Regions from separate parts of the Homo sapiens genome. Here region 2 is linked to region 1. The links come from fine-mapping of genetic effects on plasma protein levels. A gene starts in region 1. The other region holds a variant in brackets. All regions are shown on one strand. Distances are from middle to middle. Region 1 holds the start of MUC13 (mucin 13, cell surface associated). Region 2 overlaps MUC13 (mucin 13, cell surface associated).

Evidence for each region. A credible set is the group of variants that fine-mapping cannot tell apart. PIP is the chance, under the fine-mapping model, that this variant and not a neighbour inherited with it causes the effect. The UK Biobank Pharma Proteomics Project read protein levels with antibody pairs (Olink). The fine-mapping took linkage between variants from a reference panel, not from the people measured, so its PIPs are less certain.
Region 2: its variant is the best candidate, but not a certain one, in a credible set for the plasma level of the MUC13 protein (UK Biobank, PIP 0.72). The variant lies in the coding sequence of MUC13. If it changes the protein, the assay may bind it differently, which can mimic a change of level.

The regions. Positions count from the first base shown.
Region 1 is chr3:124,928,640-124,940,843 of GRCh38, reverse strand. It overlaps MUC13 (mucin 13, cell surface associated), which reads left to right and starts at 6,093. Exons shown (of 12, transcript NM_033049.4): 1 at 6,093-6,183. The coding sequence starts at 6,132.
Region 2 is chr3:124,900,131-124,916,416 of GRCh38, reverse strand. It overlaps MUC13 (mucin 13, cell surface associated), which reads left to right. Exons shown (of 12, transcript NM_033049.4): 6 at 1-100; 7 at 2,736-2,855; 8 at 3,177-3,306; 9 at 4,276-4,313; 10 at 5,918-6,002; 11 at 8,069-8,270; 12 at 9,675-10,975. The coding sequence ends at 8,270. It also overlaps a transcript of ITGB5 not described here. Among named protein-coding and RNA genes, the nearest start is that of ITGB5, 21 kb to the right of the region's middle. RefSeq lists an enhancer at 8,146-8,647. The variant A/C (reference allele first, on the strand shown) is at 8,240.

The DNA.
Region 1 (12,204 bases):
CCTGGGTGGCACAGTGAGACTCCATCTCAAAAAAAAAAAAATTAAAATAAAAAAAAAGAGGTAAAATATAATCTCACTTTTGTTTTAGTTGTAACATCTTTAAGATGAGTAAAGGCCGGGCACAGTGGCTCACACCTATGATCCCAGCGCTTTGGGAGGCCGAGGCGGGTGGATCACGAGGTCAGGACATTGAGACCATCCTGGCTAACACGGTGAAACCCCATCTCTACTAAAAAATAAAAATAAAAAAATTAGCCAGGTGTGGTGGCGGGCGCCTGTAATCCCAGCTACTCGAGAGGCTGAGGCAGGAGAATGGCATGAACCCAGGAGGCGGAGCTTGCAGTGAGCCGAGATTGCGCCACTGCACTCCAGCCTGGGTGACAAAGCGAGACTCCCTCTCAAAACAAACAAACAAACAAAAAAAGATGAGTAAAAAGCTAAATATTCTTCCCCCACATATTTACTTACTAATAATATTTTCTCTTTTGAATAATTTGATCATGACAACCAACTTTTGGAAGATAAATTGTCTGAATGCACTGTGGGTCTGAAGACCCCAAACTGTGTCTTATTTCTTTGCATTCCCTGTTCCCTGCACCTAGAACAAATCGGACGGCCTTCATTCATTCCTTCCTTTCTTCCATAAATCTTTACTGAGCACCTGCCATGTGCCAGCTGTTCTGGATGCTGGAGACAGAGGAGTGGACAGGGAAGAGAAACTCTCATGGAAGTTAGGCAACAGGTAGCTAAACCAGCAAAGAGACAAAGTAATTACATATTGTGATGAGGGCTATGGAGGAAACGAACTGAGGTGGGATGGTCAGGCGAGTAGACCAGCTCCTTTAGATAAGGCCCCCAAGGAAGATCTGGCCTGTCGTTCTCCTGCTTAAATGTTCCCATGGCTTCTGCCATTGTGCTTAGAATAAAATCCACATTCCTTTCCACAGCCTCTAAGATCCTGTAGGATCAGGCCCCAGCCTGCCTCTCTGACAACATCTCCCCCCAGTCTCCTCCTAAATCATGGTGCTCTTCAAACACACCAGACTTGTTCTGGCCTCAGGCCTTTGCACTTACTACTTTTCTAGCTGGAATGCCCTTTTTCTGATGTTTATATGGCAGGCTTCCCTTCAATAGCAGCTCTCAGTTCCGATATCAGCTCCTGCAAGAAGGTTTTGCTGACCATCCTATTTAAAGTAGCACCTCATACCCCACAAGTCACTATCCCATTGTTGTGTTTTATTTTCTTCAGAGCATTGACCACTCTCTAAAATCATTGTATTTAATTACTTTTTTTGCCGACCTCCACTACCCATGATCTCACAGAAGCTTCAGGAGAGCAGAGACCTTCATCATCTTGTTCACTGCTTCATCTTCGATACCTGATGGATGTGCAGAGATGCCTCGAGTACCTGGGAGTGACTGAACAGCCCCCTCCTGAACATTACTCATGTAAAGCAACCATTCACTGAAAAGTTAATTTCAGAGGGTATAAAAAGCAAGAGTGGAAATGGTTCTGTCAATGTGTCATCAATTAGACATTTGAGTTGGGAATATTGCATTCCACAAGTCATTTCTCTGGGAATGGTCTTCTGAATTAGAGAGGAAAATGCTGATCAGCTTCATGTAGTATCTAAATGTGATATCCGTAAATGGTAGTAGTGACTCTGGGAAGGCTATACTCACACCTCTATTGAGGGGCTGGAATTAGTGAGAAGGAGATAGGAGCTTAACATGTATTTACATTTGGTTCTATAGACAGAAAATAATCTTTGGGTCTAACTATTTAATCTTGATAGAATTTTATGTTTTAATGATCCTCTAGAGCCTTATCATGGTACTGCAGTGTTGCAGAATCAAAGTAGCCAAAGAGGAGCTCTTTTGTTTGAGACAGGGTCTCGCTCTCTCGCCCATGCCGTGGTGCAGCAGTGCAATCTCGGATCACTGCAACCTCCGCCTCCAGGGTTCAAGGGATCCTCCTGCCTCAGCCTCCCAAGTATCTGGTACTACAGGCATGCATTACCATGTTAAGATAATTATTTTAAAATTGTTTTGTAGAGACAAGGTCTCACTATATTGCTTAGGCTGGTCTCAAACTCCTGGGCTCAAGCAACCCTCCCACTTTGGCCTCCCAAAGTGCTGGGATTACAGATGTGAGCCACCTCACCTGGCTAGAGAGGCTCTTGATGGATCAAATTCTAATTCTAAATGGCTCTGATATAGCTCTCTTGAGTTTATGCCTAAATAACTGGATATTGCTTTAGATTAATGGGCATGTCCCATTCCTCTGCATAGTCAATAGAATTATTGAAAAGCTCACCCTGAACAATAGTTCTTTTGCAACCAGGTAATTATGGGTAAACAGCTTTTTTTTTTTAGCTGACTTGGTGACAACGTTACCAACATATAACATTGTTTCTGTGGGAAAATGGAGTCTGTGTTCTTGACTTATAGATAAATACTTAGAATTTAGCCATTTCATACTAATAAATATCAACCCTTTTTCCTATCCAGGTTTTGAGTTCTGTGAGAAGTAAAACACAGAGTACAACAGATGGAGACAAAATATTACTTTTATAGAAGCTTATTTTTGAGAATGTGGCTTAGGGCTCCCTCCTTCTGGATCCTTACCTTCTTGGGCACAACAATCCTGAATCCAGGTTATCTCCCCAAATGGAAACTGCAGGATCTGAGGTGAGTATTCCCAGTTTATTCTGAAATAAGTCACTACTCTTCCTTTAGGGCAAAATGAATAAAGACATGCCAAGAGGCCAGGAGTGTTTCAGGAATTAAACTCCCTCCATTAGTGAGGAAACATCAGCCCTGAGGAAGAAGAAGTTTCCCTCATGAAAGCTCTGTGTATTGTCTCTGTCATCCTGCAGTACTGAAGTCCTGTGTGGATGCTTTAGGAGCGGGCATACCGGTGATTGCTGATTTATACTTTGAGGACTGCCTGACTTTCTGGCTGCCCATATTTTTCCAGATGATAAGGCCAGGGAAGAGTCAGGGAGCCAGATGCTTGGCAGTACTCCATGCCTTCCTGGTTATACTTTTCATTCTATGCTCAGCAGATAAGTAATATAGAAAACCATGGAAATATTGACACTGTTGTAATATGGTGGCATCAGTAGACATTAGTGATAGAGCACTGTGGGCGCTACTCACTTGATATCTTGAATCTAAGACATGATGGGGTGTGATAGGCTTCTCCCAGTTTAGGAGACAGGATTTGAGACCCTGCATTTGAGATCCTGCAGCTACTTATGTGACCCCAGGCCACTTTTTCAATTTTTCTAGATTCCTGGTTAGGCTTTTATAAAGTGAATATAGTAAGTTTAAAATGCCATATAAAAATGACAGAAAAGGAGAAAAGATTTGCAATACATATGTAAAGAACTTTTACCATTAAAAACCAAGAAGAAAACCAATTCAACGATACAATGTGCAAATTATTTGAACAGGTACTTTACAAAAGAAGAGACACGAGTGACTAATATGCACATAAAATGATGTTCAACATCATTTGTCATCAGGAGATGCAAATTAAAACAAAAGTGAGATGCCACTACATACCCTTTAGGGTAGCTAATATAAAGACGGACAATACCAAGTGTTGGCAAGGATAGGGAACAACTGGAATTCTCATATATTGCTGATGTAAAATGGCATAACAACTTAGGAAAACCATTTGACCATTTATTAAAAAGTTATATAGCTACCATGTGATGCAGCCATTCCATTCTAAATATTTACCCTAAAGAAATGAAAGTGTATGTTCATACAAAAACTTGTACATGAATACTTATAACTTTTTTTTTTTTCTCGAGATGAAGTCCCGCTCTGTTGCCCAGGCTGGAGTGCAGTGACGTGATCTTGGCTCACTGCAAATAATACTTCCGGGGTTCAAGGGATTCTCCTGCCTCAACCTCCTGAGTAGCTGGGGTTACAGGTGCCTGCCACCATGCCTGGCTAATTTTTGTATTTTTAGTACAGATGAGGTTTCGCCACATTGGCCAGGCTGATCTCCAGCTCCTGATCTCAGGTGATCCACCTGCCTCAGCTTCCCAAAGTGCTGGGATTACAGGTATGAACCACCACACCTGGCCTTATTTATAATCTTTTTGTTTGTAATAGTCAAAACTAGAAACAACTCAAATGTCCATCGACAGATGAATTACCAAACACGCCATGGTACATTGATACAGTGGAATAGTGTTCAGATATAAGAAGAAACAAACTATGAATTCACACAGCAAGGATGAGTCTCAAAATGGTTATAAGTGAAAGAAACTGGCTCAAAAAACAAAACAAAACAAAAAACTACATCTGTATGATTCCATTTACATAAAATGCTAGAAAATGCAGACTAATTTATAGAGACAGAAAGCAGATCAATGGTTACCTGGGGTTGGGGTGGAGTATAGGGGATGTAGCACTAAAAAGGGACAAGAGGAAAGTCCCAAAGGGTGTGTTGGGAATGCTCGGTATCTTGGTTGCAACGGTAGCTACACATGTATATACATCAATCAAAATTCGTTGAACTGTACACTGTAAATAGATACAGTTTATTGACATAAATTATAGCTCAATAAAGCTAGTTTAAAAAGAAAAGAAAAACAAGCCTTTGTTTAAATCCTGATGCCAGGAGTTATTCAAGCTGAGAATAATAGCATAACATAATGGGCCTTAGAAGTGTCTTTGCTTTGGAAAAAGTGTTTAAATGGACCTCTCAGCCATGTAAGAACAAACCCCTGTCTTATTCTTGAATGGAGACTCTAGGACAATAAGCAGCTTATCTGCTGGGCGATCATACAAAAATGTTTTGTTTTCATCAAGGTCAGGGTTAAAATTTAAACCCAAAGGCCAGGTATGGTGGCACACGCTTGTAATCACAGCACTTTGGGAGGCTGTGGTTGGGGATTGCTTGAGTCTAAGAGTTTGAGACCAGCCTGGACAACATGACAAAACCCCATCTCTTCTGAAAATACAAAAATCAGCCAAGCATTGTGGTGTATGCCTGTAATCCCAGCTACTTGGGTGACTGAGGCAGGAGGATCACTTGAGCCCTGGAGGCAGAGGTTGCAGTGAGCTGAGATCGTGCCACTGCACTTCAGCCTGGGCGACAGAGTGAGACTCTGTCTCAAAAAAAAAAAAAAAAAAAAAAAAAAACTTAAACTCAAAACTCTAGCCACAACTCACAAGGTATCATTAGTTTATATTCCTCTGGCTGGGGCTAGACACAGTAGAGTTGGGGCCCTGGACTTTAAGGAGGGAAAATTAGATTAAGAAGACCCAAATCCAAGCAGTAAAGCTGGTTCCTGACACATGGTGAGAGGTGAGGGGCTGAGGAACTAGAGAGAGGGTGAGAAAGGGAACTGAGAAGTGGGGCCTGCCCAATGAGTGGCCAGGAGCAGAGAGATCAAATCAGCTGTTCTAAGTTTTCTCTTTTCTGTACTTTATTGCCAACTCCCCAACACACCAGTCACCCACAAGACTTCAGTAAAGTTAGGTTAAATGCCATGATGTGATGTCCATTGTGCTTGGGAACTTTATTGGGGGCTGTATCCAGGTAGAGTCACAGAAGCTTGGAGATGTGATTACAAAGTTGCTAGACATGACCATCAGAGAGGCCCGGAATGGTAGTCCCCAGCATACAGTGACAAAAGTTAAGCAACTAATAATTTTGGGAAACATGTAAGTCCTCTTCAGGGATTCTCAGAACTACAGCTGGAGGAAAGTGGTTTCCTGCACTCATATGTGGGTGAGTAGAGCACAGTTTGTTATTGAATGTTTAATGGAATGGTGACCTCCTAAAAGATGGCGGCTTGGAGACATTTGAGATATCAAGAGATTAACCAAACTCATGTGCCACCAACCTCACAAGGATATTTGGAATGTCCTGACTTATTTTGGGCTTTGAGTCAGAAAAATGATTCGTAAGGCCAGCTCCACCTCTTCTATCTCAAAAGCTCGGAAGAGATCTATGGTATTTGGCCAAATGCTAGCTATAATTGCCTTTCTGTGGTTTGACGTCAATTAATGACTGGACTTTGTACCCGAAAGACAGTTAAAACGAAAGGTAGCCAGGAAGGGAAATCATTTCCTCCTCAGATTACCAAGCAAGAACAGCTAAAATGAAAGCCATCATTCATCTTACTCTTCTTGCTCTCCTTTCTGTAAACACAGGTAAGGAATATTTTTACATTTTAATTCTTCCAATCATGTATGTTGTCTTTGAGGTAGAATCAGCAGGCCTATAGCTACCAATTCTCCCAGCCCAGCACATGGTCTATTTTATAAATGAAGTTTCCTCTCCAGCTCAGCTCAAAGACACAGACATTTTATCCTGTGATGGGGAAGATAGAGCAATAGCAAAAGTGGTCTGTGGGCTGGGCGCGGTGGCTCACGCCTGTAATCTCAGCAATATGGGAGGCCGAGGCAGATGGATCACTTGAGGTCAGGAGTTTGAAACCACCCTGGCCAACATGGTGAAACTCCATCTCTACTAAAAATACAAAAAAATTAGCCAGGTGTGGCGGTGGGCACCTGTAGTCTCAGCTACTCAGGAGGCTGAGGCAGAAAGAATCGCTTGAACTCGGGAAGTGGAGGTTGCAGTGAGCTGAGATGACACGGAGTGACAGAGCGAGACTCCATCTTGTAGGGGTGGGGGGAAGAAGTGGTCTATGGAGTGAGATCTGGGGGCTCAGCAAACCAGAGGTTTCTCTTTGAGAGTTCCTGAGGCCAGATAAGAAGGACTAAGTAGGTTGCAAGGACCCAGTTCTCTACTATAGCGTTCTGGATCCCCTCTCATGATAATCAGAGAGCTGACCACAGCAAAAAGCCTCCTTTCACAAATGTACTTGAATTTGAGAATGCTAAACCATAGGGAGTAATTGTCACGTTGATTAGACTTCAGACATGTACTCTCTGTTCTGAGTTAGGAAGGGTTCTATGGGCCACATGTGGGTGAGGTCAGCAGTATGTTGAGAGGTGAGGGTTGTGGAGGCCAATTGGCTTCCTAAAATTTTGCAGAAAAATCACTGGCATGAAGTAGATGGACTAATAGGAAAAAAGGCATACAACTGTATTTAATGTGTGTACCCAGGAACCTTCAGCATGAACACCCAACTTCCTGATGAGGTATAGAAGCTTATACACCATCTTGAGGTTACAGAAAGAAAGGGGGCTTGGATCTTGGTAAAACAAGTTATGGAAGAAGGGAGAAGAGGAATTCTGTTGAGGGGCAATAAATGATTATTAGGGAGAATAATTGGATCTGGGAACAAAAATGAACTTGTAGATAATTCTCCTTGGAATTTAAAGATCCTTGGAGACAGTCCTTATCTTGATGAAGGGTCAGCTCAGGGGTGGTTTCCTTCTCGGTCTTCTTTCCTGTAGTGGATAATGACATAACAGGGAGGGGAACAGGAGCAATAGTTCTTCTTTGGTGGATCAGTCCTTACAGCGCTTGTTGACCTCTAAGAGTTTTTAATTTAAAATACTCATTATATCATGGAGCTATATTTGGGGGTGAAATATTTTTATTTCCTTCAGGTTCAATGAGTTGAAATCTAGAAGCTGCTTGCAGAAAGGAAGAAAGTATTTGATAAGGCAGATGTATGAAGAGAAATTAAGCCCTTTCAGAGAACTGGAATGAATGGCATCAGGATTAGAGTTTTTTGAGAGCTGGTTTCAAGCTCTTAATGCTGGAAGGTTGGAGAAGGCTAGCTGCACAGGAGGGGAGGGCTCACCAGATCTCTCCTGCCAACCTTGGGGGCAGATGCTAGGTCCAAGCCTTCAGGACAAAGGAAGAATTGGTGAGGCTTGTATGACTTTCAGGAGCCACTGTTAAAAAAGGCTTGACTTTTTAAAAATAGAATAGAAGGGCGGTAGAAAGGGGAAAGTTGGCTGGGAGGGGACAAGGAGATGAATAGAGAGTTAAGGGAATCAGGAATCATTGAGGCTCAAGGGACCTTAGGGGAATGGAGATGTTTCTTGACCCAGAGAACCCAGGGGGAAGGGCAAAAGTAGGGCAAGCAGGGATTCAGATGGCATGCCACCACTTATTAGCTGTGGGGTGTCTCTGACCCTCAGTGTCTTCCTGTGTAGCAATAGAGGGGAAATCCCTATACTGAAGAGTGACTGAGAGGATTAAATGAGACAAAGAGCCTGATGTGCCGGGATACTGCCTGGCACATAGGGGCTTAATAAATGATTTCCCTTTTTGTCATGTCTGCACTTGGATCTGATTTTCTTTTCTTTCTTTCTTTTTTTTTTTTTGAGACCGAGTTTCACTCTTGTCGCCCAGGCTGGAGTGCAATGGCACGATCTCTGCTTACTGCAACCTCCGCCTCCCAGGTTCAAGCGATTCTCCTGCCTCAGCCTCCAGACTAGCTGGGATTACAGGCACCTGCCACCACACCTGGCTAATTTTTGTATTTTTAGTAGAGATGGGGTTTCACCATGTTGGCTAGGCTGGTCTCAGACTCTTGACCTCAGGAGATCCACCTGCCTTGGCCTCCCAAAGTGCTGGGATTACAGGCGTGAGCCACCACGCCCAGCCTGGATCTGATTTTCAAACTTTGGTTTTGATTTCCTCTTCTTTGTTTAAAAAAGTTATACAAGTAATGCAGACCCACTGTAACAAATCCAAACAATACAGATGTATATGAAATAAAAATTGAGCATCCAATCTGACTTCCCACCCATCTACCTCCAGATATATTAATACTGACAGTTTTGTGGCTACTAAGGTTTGCTTTTGAAAAAAATATTTATTTTATTATTTATTTATTTATTTTGAGACAGAGTTTTGTTCTTGTTGCCCAGGCTGGAGTGCAATGGCGCCATCTTGGCTCACTGCAACCTCCGCCTGCCAGGTTCAAGCAATTCTCCTGCCTCAGCTTCCCAAGTAGCTGGGATTACAGGTGCTCACTACCACACCTGGCTAATTTTTTTGTATTTTTAGTAGAGACGGGGTTTCACTACATTGGCCAGGCTGTTCTCGAACTCCTGACCTCATGATCCGCCCGCCTTGGCCTCCCAAAGTTCTGGGATTACAGGCGTGAGCCACCGCGCCTGGCCTTATATTACTTTTTGAGATGGAGTTTTGCTCTTGTCGCCCAGGCTGGAGTGCAATGGCACTATCTCAGCTCACTGCAACCTCTGCCTCCCAGGTTCAAGTGATTCTCCTGCCTCAGTTTCCCGAGTGGCTGGGATTATAGGTGCCTGCCACCACGCCCAGCTAATTTTTGCATTTTTGGTAGAGATGGCGTTTCATCATGTTGGCCAGGCTGATCCCAAACTCCTGACCTCAGGTGATCTGCCCGCCTCGGCCTCCCAAACTGCTGGGATTACAGGCATGAGCCACCGCGCCTGGCCTGAAAATTTTTAAAAAGTTGCTTTTTTTTTTTTTTGAGACAGAGTCTCGCTCTGTTGCCAGGCTGGAGTGCAGTTGTCACGATCTTGGCTCGCTGCAACCTCTGCCTCCTGGGTTCAACCAATTCTCCTGTCTCAGCCTCCCAAGTAGTTGGGACTACAGGCGTGTGCCACCATGCCCAGATAATTTTTGTATTTTTAGTAGAGACAGGGTTTCATCATGTTGGCCAGGATGGTCACAATCTCTTGATCTCATGATCCACCCACCTCAGCCTCCCGAAGTGCCGGGATTACAGACATGAGCCACCGCTCCTGGCCTGAAAATTTTTAAAAAGTTGCTTTTTAATGTAACGTTAAGGATTTTGGAGGTGTGTGTAAGGAATCACTACTTCAAACATGAGTTCCATCTCAGATTCTGAGCAACCAAGGGCAGGAAGTGTGTCTTGTACACCTTTACGTTCCTCCTCACCCCTATGCCTTGTATAGCACCTTGACTGCAAGAACCCCCGCACAAGCATTTACTGAAACAAATGAAAAATGTGCCAGTGACATTTGAAGAGCCTTTAACAGGCAAAACTTCCCAGGTTGTTTTTGCTTTCTCTGAGAGACTAGGACTGCATTATTCCACAGAATCTGATGAGTGCCTTTGGGAACCAACATCTCATCATAATGAAGAATTCAGATCTGGGAGAAAGGCGTTTGATTGTGACTTTCAGCTAGCTTTGAATAAAGCAGTTATAGGTGTGCCCTGGACAGGGGTGGTGATTATGGAGTGTTCCCCAGAAAGAAACCAGGTCAGGGCATATATTTTCCCATTGAAACCTATGATTTGTACCTCTGTGGACGTTGTGCTATCCTTGTGTTATTTAGAAGCTTTAGGACCTAAGGAAATAAAAAGACTAAAGTTATTTCTACTGCACAGATGTCTTCATATATTTCTGTTATCTATAGATTGAACAAAATAGGTTATTTTACAGTTCCTCTTGGGTATTTTTACTAGATAATTTAAGCCTGGGATATCAGCTCTAAGCTGTCTTCCCTGAAATCTATACAACCCTCAGATAAAACACATATATACACATAGACACACACAAGTGTATTTTAGTTTAAAAAAAAATCGTAGCTATTCACAGCAATGAATTGCTGTCAGCTTGGAATGTGTCTCATTTATTAAAACTAATTGAGCATTCTGAAATGTATTCTCCCTAGTGAACAGAAATTTAAAACCAAAATAAACAAGCCACCAAGTCCAAAACTCCTTGTCATAATTCCAAAGACCTGCAAAAACCTCTCAAGAAGTCCCAATTTGTTTTATGCACATCTACAGAAACATGTTGGTTCTTTGGCATCGGCCGAGAATGAATATTCCCAAAGCATGAAATTCAGGGTCTGGTGGGGTTGGGGTTGTTTGCACCCACAGTCTGCCAAGTCCTTTTCTTCTGTCCAGAGTTTTCCACAGCGAGAGCCAGCCCCTGGCCACTCTCACTGCTACTCCGATGATAGAGGGCACCGTGGAGGTCACTTCTATTTCCACCGCTTTCATTCTGATCCCCAATTTTCTCTATTTGCTTTTCTTGTGTTTGTTCCTCGGGGGTCTTGGCTTTTTCATTAAATGGATGGCCTTCCCCATAACTTTAATCAAGTGATAGTTAGGACATTGTCATCTCACAGACCTGGCTTTGCCTCTGGGCAAATTCCTTAACCCTTCTGAGTATTGGTGGGCTCTTCTGTCAAATGTGGGCACTTATGTCTACTTCACAGGTACAGTCGGGCACAGGGCCAGTGCTTGATAGATGAGAACTATCCTGAGTGGCAGGAATAGGAAGACTGGCAGTCAACATTGCCAGTTGCTGATGTATTTCTTACCTAGGAAGAGCAATTGCTGATCTCTTCAACACTTCTGAATGGCTATGTTAGCCAAGCCCTCTTCAAGGTGAAGAATCAGGCTCTGCCCTCAAGGGGCTCATAGACCCATCGGGGAATCAGGAAGCATATTCTGCAGTTCTCTGCACCCTAAGGTTTAGAAATTGCTTCCTCACTAAACCTTTTTCTTTCAATAATTTTTTTAACCTATTGTCAAGGTCAGAGTTCTTAGAGACAAGGAAAAGTTCTAGAAAACTTATCACTGGGCCAGGCAAGGTGGCTTACACCTGTTATCCTAACACTTGGGCGGCCAAGGTGGGAGGATCACTTGAGCCCAGGAGTTTCAGCGCTGCAGTGAGCTATTATGGCACCACTGCACTCCAGCATGTGTGACAGAACAAGACCATGTCTCTAAAAAAAAAAAATAAAATAAAAGAGTGGGGGAAGAAAATGGATCACTGGATCCCTAGAGTTTACTACTCCATGTGTCCAGGGGTTCCTAAAAGTTGTGAAAATGCGACTTTGATATCCATCATAGCTCAGAGGGCAAAGATCACTTATTCATCTTACTCTTAGTCAATGTATCTAGAATTGTGAATGGGAAAACACTACTAGAATAAAATTTTGGAAGAAGTATAATAAGCACTTAATGAGGTATTTTTATTTTATTATTCTTTAAATTACCCAACCCTAACCTTTCCCTCCCTCAATCTATCAAGGTAATGAAAAAATGGGACAGTTGCCTTAAAGTGCAGAAAGACAAAAGTAGTCCATTTCTGGGTAGTCACTGCGCCACCTTGTGGCATTCTCAATTGTCCTCACTGAGAATGGTCTGAAGTATATTAAACCCTGATCTACAGTTACGTGACTACAGGCATAAATAATATTACTTCTTAGTATTCAACTTAAAAAACATTAACTCTTCTGCGGGACTGGTGGGTCACATCTGCAATCCCAGCACTTTGG
Region 2 (16,286 bases), 26 kb after region 1:
ACAATTTTGGCAGAAACCACAAGTGACAATGAGAAGACTGTGACTGAGAAAATTAATAAAGCAATTAGAAGTAGCTCAAGCAACTTTCTAAACTATGATTGTAAGTATTGTATAATTTTATTCAAAGTTCACCTGAAGACCTACCTACCTTTTTTGTAAACCTTTTCATTATATGTGAAAAGGAGACAAGAACTGCATCATTGAACTGACAACTGTCTCTAAATTTCTTTTTATCCAATTCTTCTTCCCTTTTCTTGTTCGCTTGCCCTCTGCTTCTTTCCAACCATGTCCCAAGTCATCAAACTGACCAGTGTGTTCCTCTCTACGAAGGTATAAATGACCAGACAAACCACTGCTGGGCAGGGAAAGAAAAAGGAGAAACAACAGGGCTTTATGTCAGGTTAAAGATTTCCAAATGATTACAGAAAATTTTACCTGTGGCTGGGTGTGGTGGCTCATGCCTGTAATCCCAACACTTTGGAAGGCTGAGATGGGCGGATTCCTTGAGCCCAGGAGTTTGAGACCAGCCTGGGCAACATGGCAAAATCCCATCTCTACAAAAAATTAGCCAGGTGTGGTGGTGCAGGTCTGTGGTCTCAGCTACTTGGGAGGCTGAGGTGGGAGGATTGCATAAGCCCAGGAGGTTGAGGCTGCAGTGAGCTGAGATCACGACACCACACTCCAGCCTGAGCAATAGAGCAAGACCAAGCATTACCCGTACTATTTTCCCCTTTAGACACACACGAACCCACCATGTAGCTGTAGCAATTTGCGTTTGCTGTGTTACGAAGGTAGTGGCCAAAAACAACCATCATTTATTTACTGCAACCCTAGAATTCTATGGGTCTGAATTTGAGCTGGGCTCAAGTGGATAGTGTGCTGATCTGGGCCAGGCTTAATTGATCTCTGCTGGGCTCACTTAAGCATCTGCCATTAGCTGCTGGGTATAAATGGTTTGTCTCTGCTCCACATGGTCTCTTATCAGCAGACCCATCCAAAGGATTTCAAGAGCAGCAAGAGGGTAAGATTCAATGCACAAATATTTCTCAAGTCTCTGCTTACATCACAGTTACAACTGTCCAATTGGCTAAAGCAATTCGCATTACCAAGCACAGTGTGGAAGGGCCCTGCCCAAGGGGTACAGAAAGGTGTGAGTAAATTGATGTCATGACTGCAGTCAACCCACCATAACAGTCATCAGAAGTTCCTCACCCCAGAGGTGACCCACTGGGGCCAGTCCCGGGAAGAGGTGTTTGCAGCTGGTTCTCAGTCCTGGTTGCCAAATCCAGAATCCTCTGTTGAGCCACAACTTATTTGACTTTTCTATAGCATTTGACACTAGTATCCTTCCCTTCTAGATGTTCCCTTCTTCCTGGGCCCGCATCCACCATTCTCCTAATCGCCTTCGTGCCTCCCTCATCCTTCTTTTTGCTCCTTCTAAGACTCCTTTCTTCATCTCTTAAGTGTTTGCTTTTTTGTTTGTTCATTTGTTTGTCAGGGTCTCACACTGTTGCCCAGGCTGGAGTGCAGTGGGATGATCTTGGCTCACCACAACCTCCAACTCCCGGGTTCAAGCGATTCTCCTGCCTCAGCCTCTCGAGTAGCTGGGATTATAGGCATGTGCCACCACGCCCAGCTAATTTTTGTATTTTTAGTAGAGACGGTTTTCGCCATTTTGGCTGGGCTGGTCTCGAACTCCTGACCTCAGGTGATCTGCCCGCCTTGGCCTCCCAAGGTGCTGGGATTACAGGTGTGAGCCACCATACCTGGCCGGAAAACACTTTCCTGTTCTCCGGCTTCAGTGGCAAAGATAAATTGTTTTCTTTGCCCAAAATTGTAGAATCTCTTGCTCTAGGCTTTTAATCAGAGGCATTTTCATGTGGCAGGTGATGAAGGAGGCTCAGTTACAGTTTGGGATGTTTAGTAGAGAGGAGCCATATGACTCTACCTACTCCTATTCTCTCCCCCACTCCATTCTCAGACTCATCATTTTTTTTTTTCTCCCCGAGACGGATTCTTGCTCTGTCACCCAGAGCTGGAGTGCAATGGCACGATCTCGGCTCACTGCAACCTCCGCCTCCTAGGTTCAAGCAATTCCCCTGCCTCAGCCTCCTGAGTAGCTGATATTACAGGCACATGCCACCACACCCAGCGAATTTTTGTATTTTTAGCAGAGATGGGGTTTCACCATGTTGGTCAGGCTGGTCTCAAACTTCTGACCTCGTGATCCACCAGCCTCGGCCTCCCAAAGTGCTGAGATTACAGACGTGAGCCACCACACCCAGCCCAGACTCATCTTTTAACCCTAATGCCTTCCAACCCATTTTTATTTCTTTATTTATTTTTATTTATATTTTGAGACAAGGTCTCACTCTCGCTCAAGTTGGAGTGCAGTGGCATGATCATGGCTCACTGTAACCTTGAACTTCTGGGCTCAAGTGATCCTCCCACTCCAGTCTCCTGAGTAGCTGGGACTACAGGAGCTTGCCACCATGCCCAGCTAACTTTTAAATATTTTCACTGTGTTGCCCAGGCTGGTCTTGAACTCCTAGGCTCAAACGATACTCCTGCCTTGGCCTTCTAAAGTGCTGGGATTACAGTTGTGAGCCACTGCACTTGGCCCCAAAACTTATTAAAAGGCAAAGTATAACAGCAATGGGGTGGGGTAATTTTCACAAATTACCTTATCCATATTGTCATGCTGAATATATTTTTAAACTATTTGTGCTTCTCAGTGACCCTTCGGTGTGATTATTATGGCTGTAACCAGACTGCGGATGACTGCCTCAATGGTTTAGCATGCGATTGCAAATCTGACCTGCAAAGGCCTAACCCACAGAGCCCTTTCTGCGTTGGTAAGTGTTTCACCTGCTTCTAAATGTTCTTCATAACATCACTTTCTCTTCTTTTGCAACATAAAAAATTCACTCCTTTAGTTTCCACATGCATTTCAGAGTCCGAGTGATCTGACTTCTGACTTTAGACATATGGACCATGGCTGGGACCTTTGCTAGCCCATGTCCAGCTTCACAGGGGGCACATCATGTGTGGAGTCAATAAGCATCTCATTTTACCTAGAAAAAGCAATGTGAAAGACACTGTCATGTTGTCACATGTGACTTTGGGGTTAAAGAGATTGTTTCTGAAAATTACCCAGAAATCATTCTGTTTTGAAGCTTCCAGTCTCAAGTGTCCTGATGCCTGCAACGCACAGCACAAGCAATGCTTAATAAAGAAGAGTGGTGGGGCCCCTGAGTGTGCGTGCGTGCCCGGCTACCAGGAAGATGCTAATGGGAACTGCCAAAAGTAAGAAAAATAACTTTGTTTTTGTCTTGCCACAGCTGGAGCTAGGCAAAGTAGAGAGACCTTACAACACGTATATAGGTGTTGAGTCAGGAAGCTGGTAAGCTGTCATAGGTTGGTAGAGACAGCATCCTCATCATTGTCATCATCAATAGTTTTTTTTTTTTTTTTTTTTTTTGAGATGGAGTCTCACTCTGTCCCCCAGGCTACAGTGCAATGGTGCAATCTCGGCTCACTGCAACCTCCACCCCCCAGGTTCAAGTGATTCTCCTGCCTCAGCCTCCCGAGTAGCTGGGATTACAGGTGCCTGCCACCCTGTCCAGCTAATTTTTGTATTTTTAGTGGAGACGGGGTTTCATCATCTTGGCCAGGCTGGTCTTGAACTCCTGACCTCATGATCCACCTGCTTCGGCCTCCCAAAGTGCTGGGATTACAGGCGTGAGCCACCATGCCCAGCATCATCAATAGTTTTTGAGCATTCTCTATGCTCCAGGAAACACACTAGGTAATACCTATCACACAGCAACATTGTCAGGAATGTCTTAATTTCCATTTTCAGGTGAGGAAACTGAAACTGATTGTAAATAACATCCTCCAGCTCACAGGGCAACAAATAAGTGGCAGAGCCATGTGGCGTCACAGCCTGAGATGGTCCCACTACCCTCCATGCCTCTTGGGTTCAGCTTTGCCTGAACTGCAGAATCTTCCTGAAGCCCGGAGGATGGAGTGTTCAGTCAGTAGCAAATGAGCCTGCATGAGATTGCGTACCCCCCTCACCCTTCCAGAACCCCATGGAAGGTGGTCTCCTGGAAGAATGAGAGTGTAAGGAAGGCAAAAGAAAGAGGAAAAAAAGCAAGGGAGGACAGAATAAAAGGAAGATGGAAAGGAAGAGGTGGAGATTGGGGTGGGAACTCTGACATGCTCCCCACAGGGGCTCTTTAACACTGTTTCCTATTGCTCACTGTATTTCAGGTGTGCATTTGGCTACAGTGGACTCGACTGTAAGGACAGTGAGTATGAAAGTCTTGCTATTATAAACAAGTTATTAAACATCTGAGAAATCAATAGTGACCCCATTCAACATCCTGCCCAGTCCTTCAAAGTCTCTGTCCTCTTTCATAAAGAGAGAGACCATCTGCCTCCAGTTTGCCTTCTGGGTCCTGCCATGCCATGCCCACCCTTAGGTTATGAACAGCAGCCCCTCTGCCATAGAAAATAACAGAACTCAGCACCAGGAGTGGGCTGGCACCTCTGGACTTGCTTGAGACCAGAGAAGGGCATCTTAGCATTATGTTGATTTCCTGCATTAGCTTACATATGCATTATCTGCTGCTACTAGAGATAAAAGACCAGTAATTCCAAAAATTCTGGTGGTTATAGAAGAGCAGACCTAGAAACCAGACATTTAAATACTCAAATCCTTTTGTCTCAGAGCTATTTACTGGTTTGGGATATTTTGCTGCAAATTCAAATTCTGTACCCTCCCATGCCCCACCCCCACCAGATTAAGACAATACTAACTTTAAATTTTCAATTATTTTATATTCTAAAATTTACATAATGAACTAAAGATCAGTCTTCCAAGATGAAGGAAATATTACTGTCAGCCTTCCTGCCAGCCATGAAGATAGTGATGAGTGACATTCTCCATTTCTACTGTATTTTATTGCAAGGAATAATTTGCTAAGTCTTTCTTCAGGGCTTTCAATTTCCACATCTATAAAATGAGAAGTTTGGACCAGACAAACTTTGAGGTCTTTCCCAGATTTGCCAGTCTGTGGCCCCATGAATTCACATTAAAGGCAGCATTTGGGGAAGCCATATAGCAGAAAGAGACGAAGAGGTCTAGAGCAGTGTTGTGCAATAGAAATATTATGTGAGCTACACATTTCATTTGAAATTTTAGAAATTTCAAGTAAATTGTTAGAAGTAAAAAGAAACAGATGAGGTTGATTTTAAGAACATATTTTATTTAATCTATATATCCAAAATATCATTTCAACATGGAATCAATAAAAAAAGATAAACCAATTCTCTCACATTTTTTTCACATGAAGTGTTTGCAATCTGGTGTGTCTGTTACATTGTGTCTCATAGCCGCAGTCAAGTGTCAATAGTGCCAACCAGGGCAGAGTTAGGAGAGGAGAATGGGTGATAATGAACGTCTAGACTCTTCCCTCATTGATGTTATTATCAAGCCATTAGCTGGCTCCTCTAGCAGTGACATTTAACTCCAACCTAGTTTCCTTAGCTTATCAGTAAGGTGAGGTATGGAGGGCAGGCAAAGGCAGCAGAGGTAAGGAGGGAGGTGTGGCCCTCAGCTGATACTCCACTCCCCACAAAGTCCAGGAAGACCCTGCCACCATCCTTTGTATTTACAGTGTTTTGTCTGGCAGGGCTGCCCTTTCCAATTGAGTTCTGAAGACACAGTTTAGGAGGTGTGAGGAGGGAATGCTAAAGGAAATAGGCCAACTACCCAACCTGGCCTGGAGGGTTGGAGACCAGAACCTGATCGTCTTCACAGCTAGGAGTCCCTGGGAATACACGAACCTGTGCAGTAGACAGTTGGGGGCCAGCTTGTTGGAGACTGTTCTTATTTTCTTCTTCCTTTCAGAATTTCAGCTGATCCTCACTATTGTGGGCACCATCGCTGGCATTGTCATTCTCAGCATGATAATTGCATTGATTGTCACAGCAAGGTATGGGATGAAAGTGTCCTTTTTAAATTTTTTTTTTTTATAGAGAGATGGGGGGGTCTCACTATGTTGCCCATGTTGGTCTCGAACTCCTGAACTCAAGCCATCCTCCCACCTTGGCCTCCCAAAGTGCTGGGATTACAGGCATGAGCCATCACACCTGCCAGAAGTGGCCTTTTCCTGCGGCACAGGACCACCAGCATGACACTCTCTAGTTTCCAAACATACTCATCCTCTCCTGGGCAAGAGAAGGGAGATAAGGAGAGGCCTTTCTAGTACCACTGACTTTTTTTCCTTACCTTAATTGTCTTCTTATTATATAGGCAATAGCAGGACCATGGAAGAAAATCAAGAAAATAGAGAAGTGGGTAAAGGGGCGGAATTTAAAAATCACTCACAAAACCCACCATGCTGAGGCAACTAACATTTTGAGATATAACCTTCCAGATTTATTTCTATCTTTTAAAATAATATTATATACATAATTTTGTGTCTTTTGTGTTTTTAAAATTTTGGATTGAGGTTTTTTTTGGTTTAACACCGTAAGATGACATAGCAACCATTTCCTTATGTCATTAAAAACTCTTTGTTAATGTAATAATATTTAACTCCACTGAAGTTGTCAAATACAATTTTCATCAGGTCACTTCCCTGTCCAGGACTCTGCTGCAAATGGTCTAAAATCAACCTCAACTGAACCCCCTGGGTTGTTGTTTTTTTTTAACTTTTTTTAAGAAAGTTTATCACGTTAGCCGGGCATGGTGGTGGCACCCCTGTAATCCTGCTACTCAGGAGGCTGAGGCAGGAGAATTCCTTGAACTGGGAGGCAGAGGTTGCAGTGAGCCAAGATTACCCCACTGCACTCCAGCCTGGGTGACAGAGCAAGACCCTGTCTCACATACACACACACACACACACACACACACACACACGCAAGCACACACGTGTCATCTCTGCATGGCTATTAGCTTGGTGCCTTAAGGTCTCTTCTCTTAAGGAAGGGGCACTAGAGTTCATTCATTCAACAAATATTTAGATAGACTAAAGTCCCCCCATTAACAGGGAGGCAAATGCTGTGATCTTTTTCCCATTCTCAATGTGCCAAGTGGGGATCCACTTTGATTTTTTAAAGCTACTGTTTTCTAACATTTAGTTCATATCTTATATTTTGGCAAAATAGGTAGTTTTCCACTATAATGTGACAGGATAAACAGATTTTAGGTTCCTACAATATTTTGTTCTTGTTTTTTCTCTTTTTTTTTTTGAGACAGAGTCTTGGTCTGTCGCCCAGGCTGGAGTGCAGTGGCATGATCTTGGCTCGCTGCAACCTCCACCTCCCAGGTTCAAGCGATTCTCCCGCCTCGGCCTCCCGAGTAGCTGGGACTAGAGGCACATGCCACTGTGCCTGGTTAATTTTTGTATTTTTAGTGGAGACGAGGTTTCACCATGTTAGCCAGGCTGGTCTCGAACTCCTGGCCTCAAGTGATCTGCCCACCACGGCCTCCCAGAGTGCTGGGATTACAGAGGTGAGCCACCAAGCCCAGCCTCGTTTCAAGTCTTTGAACTTGTTTTACTCATTTTACCCACCAACGTGATTCTTAGATGTTGACTTTGCTGAATGAAATGCTGTATCTCAAATTATTTTCTAATATTATGAGCAAAATATGAATGAGGCCAGTGGAATTAGATTGTTATGTTGGATCAGCATTGAAGTCCAGGTTTTGTCGCTACACAGAGCTCATGACCTTAAACTTAGGAAACCTACACTGAATAAAATAATGAAGTGCTTTATTTCATTATTTGTGGGGCATCAAGTCTGCAACTTATTCTTTCATAAAACTGTTAGTGTTCTTTGGTTATGCAACTTATTCTTAATTGGTTCAGAAATGTTAATAATTAGGGAATCTGGGTGATAAGTGTGTGAGAACGCCGTAATATATGTATTTTGTAACTTACAAATAAATGTGAGATTATTTCAGAATTTAAAAATATTTTTAAAAAGAACATTAACATTTACTTCAAGAAACTTTCTGCCATTGTCAAATCCTAATTCCTCTTACTGATTACAGATCAAATAACAAAACGAAGCATATTGAAGAAGAGAACTTGATTGACGAAGACTTTCAAAATCTAAAACTGCGGTCGACAGGCTTCACCAATCTTGGAGCAGAAGGGAGCGTCTTTCCTAAGGTCAGGATAACGGCCTCCAGAGACAGCCAGATGCAAAATCCCTATTCAAG[A/C]CACAGCAGCATGCCCCGCCCTGACTATTAGGTGAGTCAGTGGGCTTTTTCTCCTGCTTTTGGGAGTGAATGCACCAGGGCAGAGCAGAGACCTGGTTGCTGAATCTTCAATCCTTGGCTGCCCCGCAGGCTTTCTTTTTCTTTTTCTTAATTGAAAGAGAGAGAGAGAGAGAGATCAAAAAGGAAGTTCCCTGCTGTCGTAACTCTGAGCATCTATGTGACTACAGACACATCACTTAATTTCCCTGGCCTTTGATTTTCTCATCTGTAAAAAGGTCAGCTTAATTTAGATACCCCTAAGGTCCCTTTAGATTACCAACTCCATGAATACGACTCCAGAGATTATGATGATGACACTTCTCAGGCTGTTTGAAGACCTAGGTCCTCAGCCAGGACCAGGGAAGGACACTGGATGTAAACATAGTTCTGTGGGATCCTTTTCACCAGGCTGTGTAAAGGCAACGCTCTCTTTCCCTGCCGCTTGATCTCAAGGCAACTCTCTCTCTCTCTCTCTCTCTCTATATATATATATAAGTTCTATTTGTTGTTGTTGTTGTTTTGAGACAGGGTCTCACTCTGTCACCCAGACTTGAGTCCAGTGGTACGATCTTGGCTCACTGTAGCCTCAACCTCCTGGGCTTAAGTGATCCTCCTACCTCAGCCTCCCAAGTAGCTGGGACTACAGGCACATGCCGCTATGCCTGGCTAATTTTGGTATTTTTTGTAGAGACAGGGGTTTCTGCCATGTTGCCCAGGCTGGTCTCAAATTCCTAAGCTCAAGTGATCCTCTCGCCTCGTCCTTCCAAAGTGCTGGGATTACAGGCATGAGCCACTGAACTGGGCATCAGTCCACTTCTAAAGAGATGAAATGGAACTTAGCTTGTTGGCTCATCCCATACTCCTAGCACTTTGGGAGCCTGAAGCAGGAGAATTGCTTGAGCCCAAGAGTTCGAGACCAGCCTGGGCAAATAATGAGACCCCATTTTTACAAAAAATAATAATAATAAAAGATAGCTTTTTAAAAAAGGAGATAAAGCTAGTTAGGCTGGTGATACTGTATTTCTCTAGGGAGAACTTTCAAGGACAACAGCTTGTACCCACTGGGTTTGTATTGGATAATCATAGCTGTCACTGCTTAGTGTGATTGAATGAAATGTTGAAAGAAGGAAGCCTGTAAGAGACTTTAGGAGGAAGAGTGACAGGAGACAGATGGAAAGAAGGAAGATGGTAAAGGAAGAGGAGAAAGGGAGCTGGGAAAGAGATGGGGAATGGAAGAGACGTGAGAGAAATGATAGGGAGAATATGGGATAAAGCTGAAGAAGACAAATAATGTTAATGAAAGTAATGTTAATAATTTACAGATCTAAACGATCTCATATGTTTCTGTTGGAGTATTTTCTAAGAGTATTGTCTCTCCCTCTCTCTTTCTGTCTAGAATCATAAGAATGTGGAACCCGCCATGGCCCCCAACCAATGTACAAGCTATTATTTAGAGTGTTTAGAAAGACTGATGGAGAAGTGAGCACCAGTAAAGATCTGGCCTCCGGGGTTTTTCTTCCATCTGACATCTGCCAGCCTCTCTGAATGGAAGTTGTGAATGTTTGCAACGAATCCAGCTCACTTGCTAAATAAGAATCTATGACATTAAATGTAGTAGATGCTATTAGCGCTTGTCAGAGAGGTGGTTTTCTTCAATCAGTACAAAGTACTGAGACAATGGTTAGGGTTGTTTTCTTAATTCTTTTCCTGGTAGGGCAACAAGAACCATTTCCAATCTAGAGGAAAGCTCCCCAGCATTGCTTGCTCCTGGGCAAACATTGCTCTTGAGTTAAGTGACCTAATTCCCCTGGGAGACATACGCATCAACTGTGGAGGTCCGAGGGGATGAGAAGGGATACCCACCATCTTTCAAGGGTCACAAGCTCACTCTCTGACAAGTCAGAATAGGGACACTGCTTCTATCCCTCCAATGGAGAGATTCTGGCAACCTTTGAACAGCCCAGAGCTTGCAACCTAGCCTCACCCAAGAAGACTGGAAAGAGACATATCTCTCAGCTTTTTCAGGAGGCGTGCCTGGGAATCCAGGAACTTTTTGATGCTAATTAGAAGGCCTGGACTAAAAATGTCCACTATGGGGTGCACTCTACAGTTTTTGAAATGCTAGGAGGCAGAAGGGGCAGAGAGTAAAAAACATGACCTGGTAGAAGGAAGAGAGGCAAAGGAAACTGGGTGGGGAGGATCAATTAGAGAGGAGGCACCTGGGATCCACCTTCTTCCTTAGGTCCCCTCCTCCATCAGCAAAGGAGCACTTCTCTAATCATGCCCTCCCGAAGACTGGCTGGGAGAAGGTTTAAAAACAAAAAATCCAGGAGTAAGAGCCTTAGGTCAGTTTGAAATTGGAGACAAACTGTCTGGCAAAGGGTGCGAGAGGGAGCTTGTGCTCAGGAGTCCAGCCGTCCAGCCTCGGGGTGTAGGTTTCTGAGGTGTGCCATTGGGGCCTCAGCCTTCTCTGGTGACAGAGGCTCAGCTGTGGCCACCAACACACAACCACACACACACAACCACACACACAAATGGGGGCAACCACATCCAGTACAAGCTTTTACAAATGTTATTAGTGTCCTTTTTTATTTCTAATGCCTTGTCCTCTTAAAAGTTATTTTATTTGTTATTATTATTTGTTCTTGACTGTTAATTGTGAATGGTAATGCAATAAAGTGCCTTTGTTAGATGGTGTCCTTGTGTCTGGGGCTTTTTTTTCATTTCTTTTTCTTTCTTTCTTTTTTTTTTTTTTTTTTTTGAGACACTGTCTTGCTCTGTCACCCAGGCTGGAGTGCAGTAGTGTGAACATGACTCACTGTAGCCTCAAACTCCTGGGTTCAAACAATCCTCCCATATAAGCCTCCTGAGTAGGTGGGGCTACAGAAGTGTGCTGTCATGCCCAGCTAATTTTTTTTTGTTGTTGTTAGAGACAGGGTCTCACTATGTTGCCCAGGCTGAGTTTGGGGGTTTTGATGATGCACACAGCAGTTAGTCTCATTTTAAATAGCAAACGTGACACATGGTAAATGGGAGTGACTGATATCTGCTATCCTTATTAGGGGTTATTGGATTACCCAAGATAACGTTCTACTGCATAGTAGACATTTGCTTCCTCCACGCACATCCCACTCCTACCCCATGATGATGAGCATTTTGGGTGGGGCTGATCCTGCTCCCAGCTACAGAGGTTGGCTCTGGTTGGCTCAAGCCAATCAGCGAAATCCCATGCCTCCTTGCCACAGTAATCGTCCTAAAAGTGAACGTGTGGCATAAGTGGATACAATTAGAATAAAGCCTAAACTTTGGTAGGAAGTTTGGAGAAAGAGAAACTTTCTTCTTCTGGAAAGTGGGCTTGAGGGTGTGAAGTCTTGAACTGCTTCTGTTTTGCTGGGGACAAAGCTGACACACACAGAGGAGAAGAACTGAGAGAACCAGAGAGAAATGGACCTGGCACCTTGATCAAACCATACCTGAAGCCTCTGGAATTTCCTCTGCTACAAGGCCAGTTTGAGTAGTTTTTTCCTGTTATTTGCAGTCAAAAAATCCTCACTGATACCACTTATGTTTATTCTTGTATTCTCATGGCTAAATGGTGAATCACATATAAGAAACATACTCTTATGAGCTATTAATGCCCACACTGAAGACATTAGCCATAAACCAATCAGTTAACAGCAGCAGAGTTATTGCAGGCAGAACTTAAAATTGGCTGGCCACTGTATTTTGTCATCACAGACTCTATTTCTGACCTGCATATTACCCCCTTTGTATTTAAATATGATTCTGGATTCAGTACTAGTAGAAGGCTATTTCTAAAGAGGCCTTTCCCCCTTCCTGATCCCCCTTTGGACCAGAGCATGCCAACTCCTGTCACTTCTCAAAGGTCCTGAGCCATACTAATTCTGGGCTTCCTGGGCCATTCTTCAAAGACTTGCATTGCTATTGTTTGACTAAAAATAATCTCCTAAAGATATATATGTATAATGTTTATGAAAATGGCTTTTGCATTTGGATTCAAAAAGTTCTTTTTGATTATTGTGCAATATGACCTATAATTCATTTGTTTCTGCTTGCTGGTAACTTTGCAAAGGTTCTCTTACTAATTGTTCTGCCACTTTGGAGGGCTGTCAGAGTGAACTTTCTACGATGCATATCTGATTGTGACACTCCCTTGCTTAAGCTTTCAGGGGTCATCCACTGAGAAATAGAGCTCATAGAATAAAGTCAGACTCCTGGTGGCATGGCACTCCTAGACATCCAGTTACTGCCGCTGATTGTGCTGGCTTTGCCTCATGACCCTCCCCACGATGCACTACCACTTTGGCCATACCTGCTGTTTCCTAAACATACCACCTCTTTAATTTATTATTATTATTATTATTTTATTTTATTTTTTTGAGACAAGGTCTGGCTCTGTTGCCCAGCCTGGAGTGCAGTGGTGTGATCTTGGCTCATTGCAAACTGCCTCCCAGGCTTAAACCATCCTCCCACCTCAGCCTCCTGAGTAGCTGGGACTACAGGCACTTGCCACCACACCTGGCTAATTTCTGTGTTTTTGTAGAGACGAGGTTTTGCCATGTCACCAGGCTGGTCTCGAATTCATGAGCTCAAGCAATCCACCTGCCTTGGCCTCCCAAAGTGCTGAGATTACAGACATGAGCCATCGTGCCCAGCCAACATATCATCTCTTCATGCCTCCATTCCTTTGCTCATGCTTTCCCTCTTGCTTTTCCTCATGCTCATGCTTTCCCATTTTGGAATGCCCGTTTCCTTCAACTACCTAATGTCTTAATCTGTTTGAGCTGTATTACAAACTACCACAGACTGAGTGGCTTACAAACAACATAAGTTATTTCTCACAGTTCTGGAGGCTGGGAAGTCCAAGATCAAGGTGTCAGCCAATTTGGTGTCTGGTGAGGACCCAGTTCCTCATAGATGGCCATCTTTTCACTGTAACCTCGCATGTTGGAAGGAGCAAGAGATCTCTCTGGGTTTTTTTTTTTGTTTGTTTTGTTTTTTTGATGGAGTCTTGCTCTGTCACCCAGGCTGGAATACAGTGGTGCGATCTTGGCTTACTGCAACCTCTGCCTCTTGGGTTCAAGCAATTCTCCTGCCTCAGCCTCCCAAGTAGCTGGGACTACTACTGCAGCCATCACGCCCGGCTAATTTTTTGTATATTTAGTAGAGACGAGGTTTCACCATGTTAGCCAGGATGGTCTCTATCTCCTGACCTTGTGATCCACCCGCCTCAGCCTCCCAAAGTGCTGGGATTACAGGTGTGAGCCACTGCGCCTGGCCTGGGGTCTCTTTTATAAGGACATTAATCCCATCCATGAGGGCTCCACCCTCATTAACTAATAACTTCCCAAAGGTCCCACCTCCTAATAGCATCATATCAGGCTTTAGGATTTAATACATGAATCTTGAGGGTACCTAAACATTTAGACCACAGCACCTGATAAATACCTCCATCTGTCTAGATCAACTAAACCATTTTCTCCTCTGGCTACCCCAGTACTCTCAAGTAGAGTTGCCTCCTTCATGTCCCAACTGGTCCTGTAACCAGTTCCCCCAGAGAAGTGGTTGTATCCATGGTTCCTTCTAACCCAGCACAATGCCTGGCATAGAACAAGTATTAAATAATTGTGAAATGGGAGTGTAAAACAGGACTCTTGCAGCTCAACCTTGAAGAATATGATCATTATCTTGATTGTGGCACTGGTTTCACAAGTATACACATGTCAAACATTGTCCAATTGTACACTTTATAAATGTACACTTTGGTGTATGTCAATTATACCTTCACAAAGCTGGGTTTTTTTATTTTTATTTTTTAAGTGGGGAGTGAACTATTATGCAGAGCTGTCTCCAACCTTGAGGGCGGCACCTTCTAGGCACAGCCCTAAGACAGGACGAGAAAACGCACATGTCACACTGCTGGCTTGTCGCATTAGACCGAAGGTCCTCTGAGGTTGGCTTTGGGTGAAACAACAGGAATGGCCCGCTGCCCTGACAGCGGCAGGTCTTAGCTTCACATTGGGATCCCCTGAGGAGGTATAAAAGTTACTGATGCCTGGGTCCCATTCCAGAGCACATCAGTCTAGGGCAGACCTGAGTCTCAGGAGTATTTAAACTCTCACCTGCACGTTTTTTTGTTTTGTTTTGTTTTGTTTTTGTTTTTGACAGAGTCTCCCTCTGTCACCCAGGCTGGAGTGCAGTGGCACGATCATGGCTCATGGCAGGCTCTAACTCCGGCCTCAAGCCATTTTCCCCGCTCAGCCTCCTGAGTAGCTGGGATTCCAGGAGCCACCCGCCACGCCCTGCGCTCCCAGGTGCTTCTAATGTGCGGTGGAGTTTGAGAACCACTGTTTCAGGTCACTGCGTTGGCTAATGGTCCAACTCGAGGTCACATCACATCATTTCCCATTCCTTCCTCCAAGAGTCTAGAAGCCAAGAGTCACATTGTGGACAAGAAGCCCCAGTAAGCTCCAAGTCTCTCTATGGAGAAGGTGACCAGGCATCCAGATTGCATCAACACCAAAACCGTTTGAGGCTGAACTCTTTTGTGCCATTTTGCCCCCAAACCTACCCTGGCCTTCCGCCCCTTTCTGCGGCTGGGCAAATCTCGGGGCCGGTAGGTGGCGCTGTCTCCTATGGCTTGCAGAAAACTCAACTTCCGGCGGGGCGGAGCTTTTAAAAGGCTTTTTTGAAATCATTAACTTTCATTTTATTATTTCTTTTTATCGAGACAGAGTCTCACCCTGTCGCCCAGGCTGGAGTGCAGTGGCGAGATCTCGACTCACTACAACCTCTGCCTCCTGGGATCAAGCGATTCTCCTGCCTCAGCCTCCCGAATAGCTGGGATTACAGGTGAGCACCACCATGCCCGACTAATTTTGTATTTTTAGTAGAGACAGGGTTTCACCATGTTGGCCAAGCTGGTCTTGAACCCCTGACCTCAAGTCATCCTACCGCTTTGGCCTCGCAAAGTGCTGGGATTACAGGTGTGAGCCACCGCACCTGACCTTAAAACCATTAACTTTTAATGCACCATTTCTAAATTTCTCCTTGGACTTTTCCTTGGTTGGTCTCTTTATTCCTTGTTCTTGTGCTAGGGAGAAATGAATGTTACGCTGTTTGCTCTTGTTGAGATATTTGCATCATTTTTACTGAATCATTAGAGATCATATATTGTCCTCTTTATTGCTCTTATAATACATAACCATAAGCAATGTTAATGTCATATTAATGGTGCATAAAGTTTGGTACAATTGTTCAGAGAAATCAATGTTTTATTTAGCGGTGATTGTACAAAATTAAAAAGGAGATAAATCCATTTTCATTGAAAAATTCTTCAGTTAAATAAAAAACAAAATGCCACCCGTGGGAGGTGAGGTGAGCAAGATCTGTCTGGGTTTTCCCTGAGGGTTCTCCGAGAACTCCAGTTTGCCATTAATTGACAATCCACAGTGCAAAAAGCAAGGTTGGAGATTAGGTTGGGGAGAGCCCTGGAAAACATATGGGGGTGTTCTTCTCAGTCTCAGGGCTATGAAATGTGGTGCTTTTATTCAAAGACAGAAGCCTGGGGCAAACCATCAAAGGCCTCATAATTTCTGCAGGCCTGGTAACATTTTTCCTGAGCCCACAATCACGACATGTGGGCCAATAAGGAAATTCTCTGCTACTTCCAGGTGAGAGAGCCAGTTTGAAAATCAACAACAACAATAATATTTCATATATTATGAAGCACTCCCTATATGCCAGGCACAATTCTTGTGCCTCACACATATTAACCCCTTTAATTCTCACGATAATTATGAAGTAGGTACTGTTTTCATGCCTGTTCAATAGTAGGGGAAATAGAGGCAAGTAACTAGTCTGCAGTCACATATCTAGGAAGTGACACAGCCAGGATTTGAGCCAGGCAGTCCGACTCCATTGCCTACCTCTCTGTCATTTAATGTTAAAGTATTAACAGAGGTAATATATTTCAATAGTCAGTAGG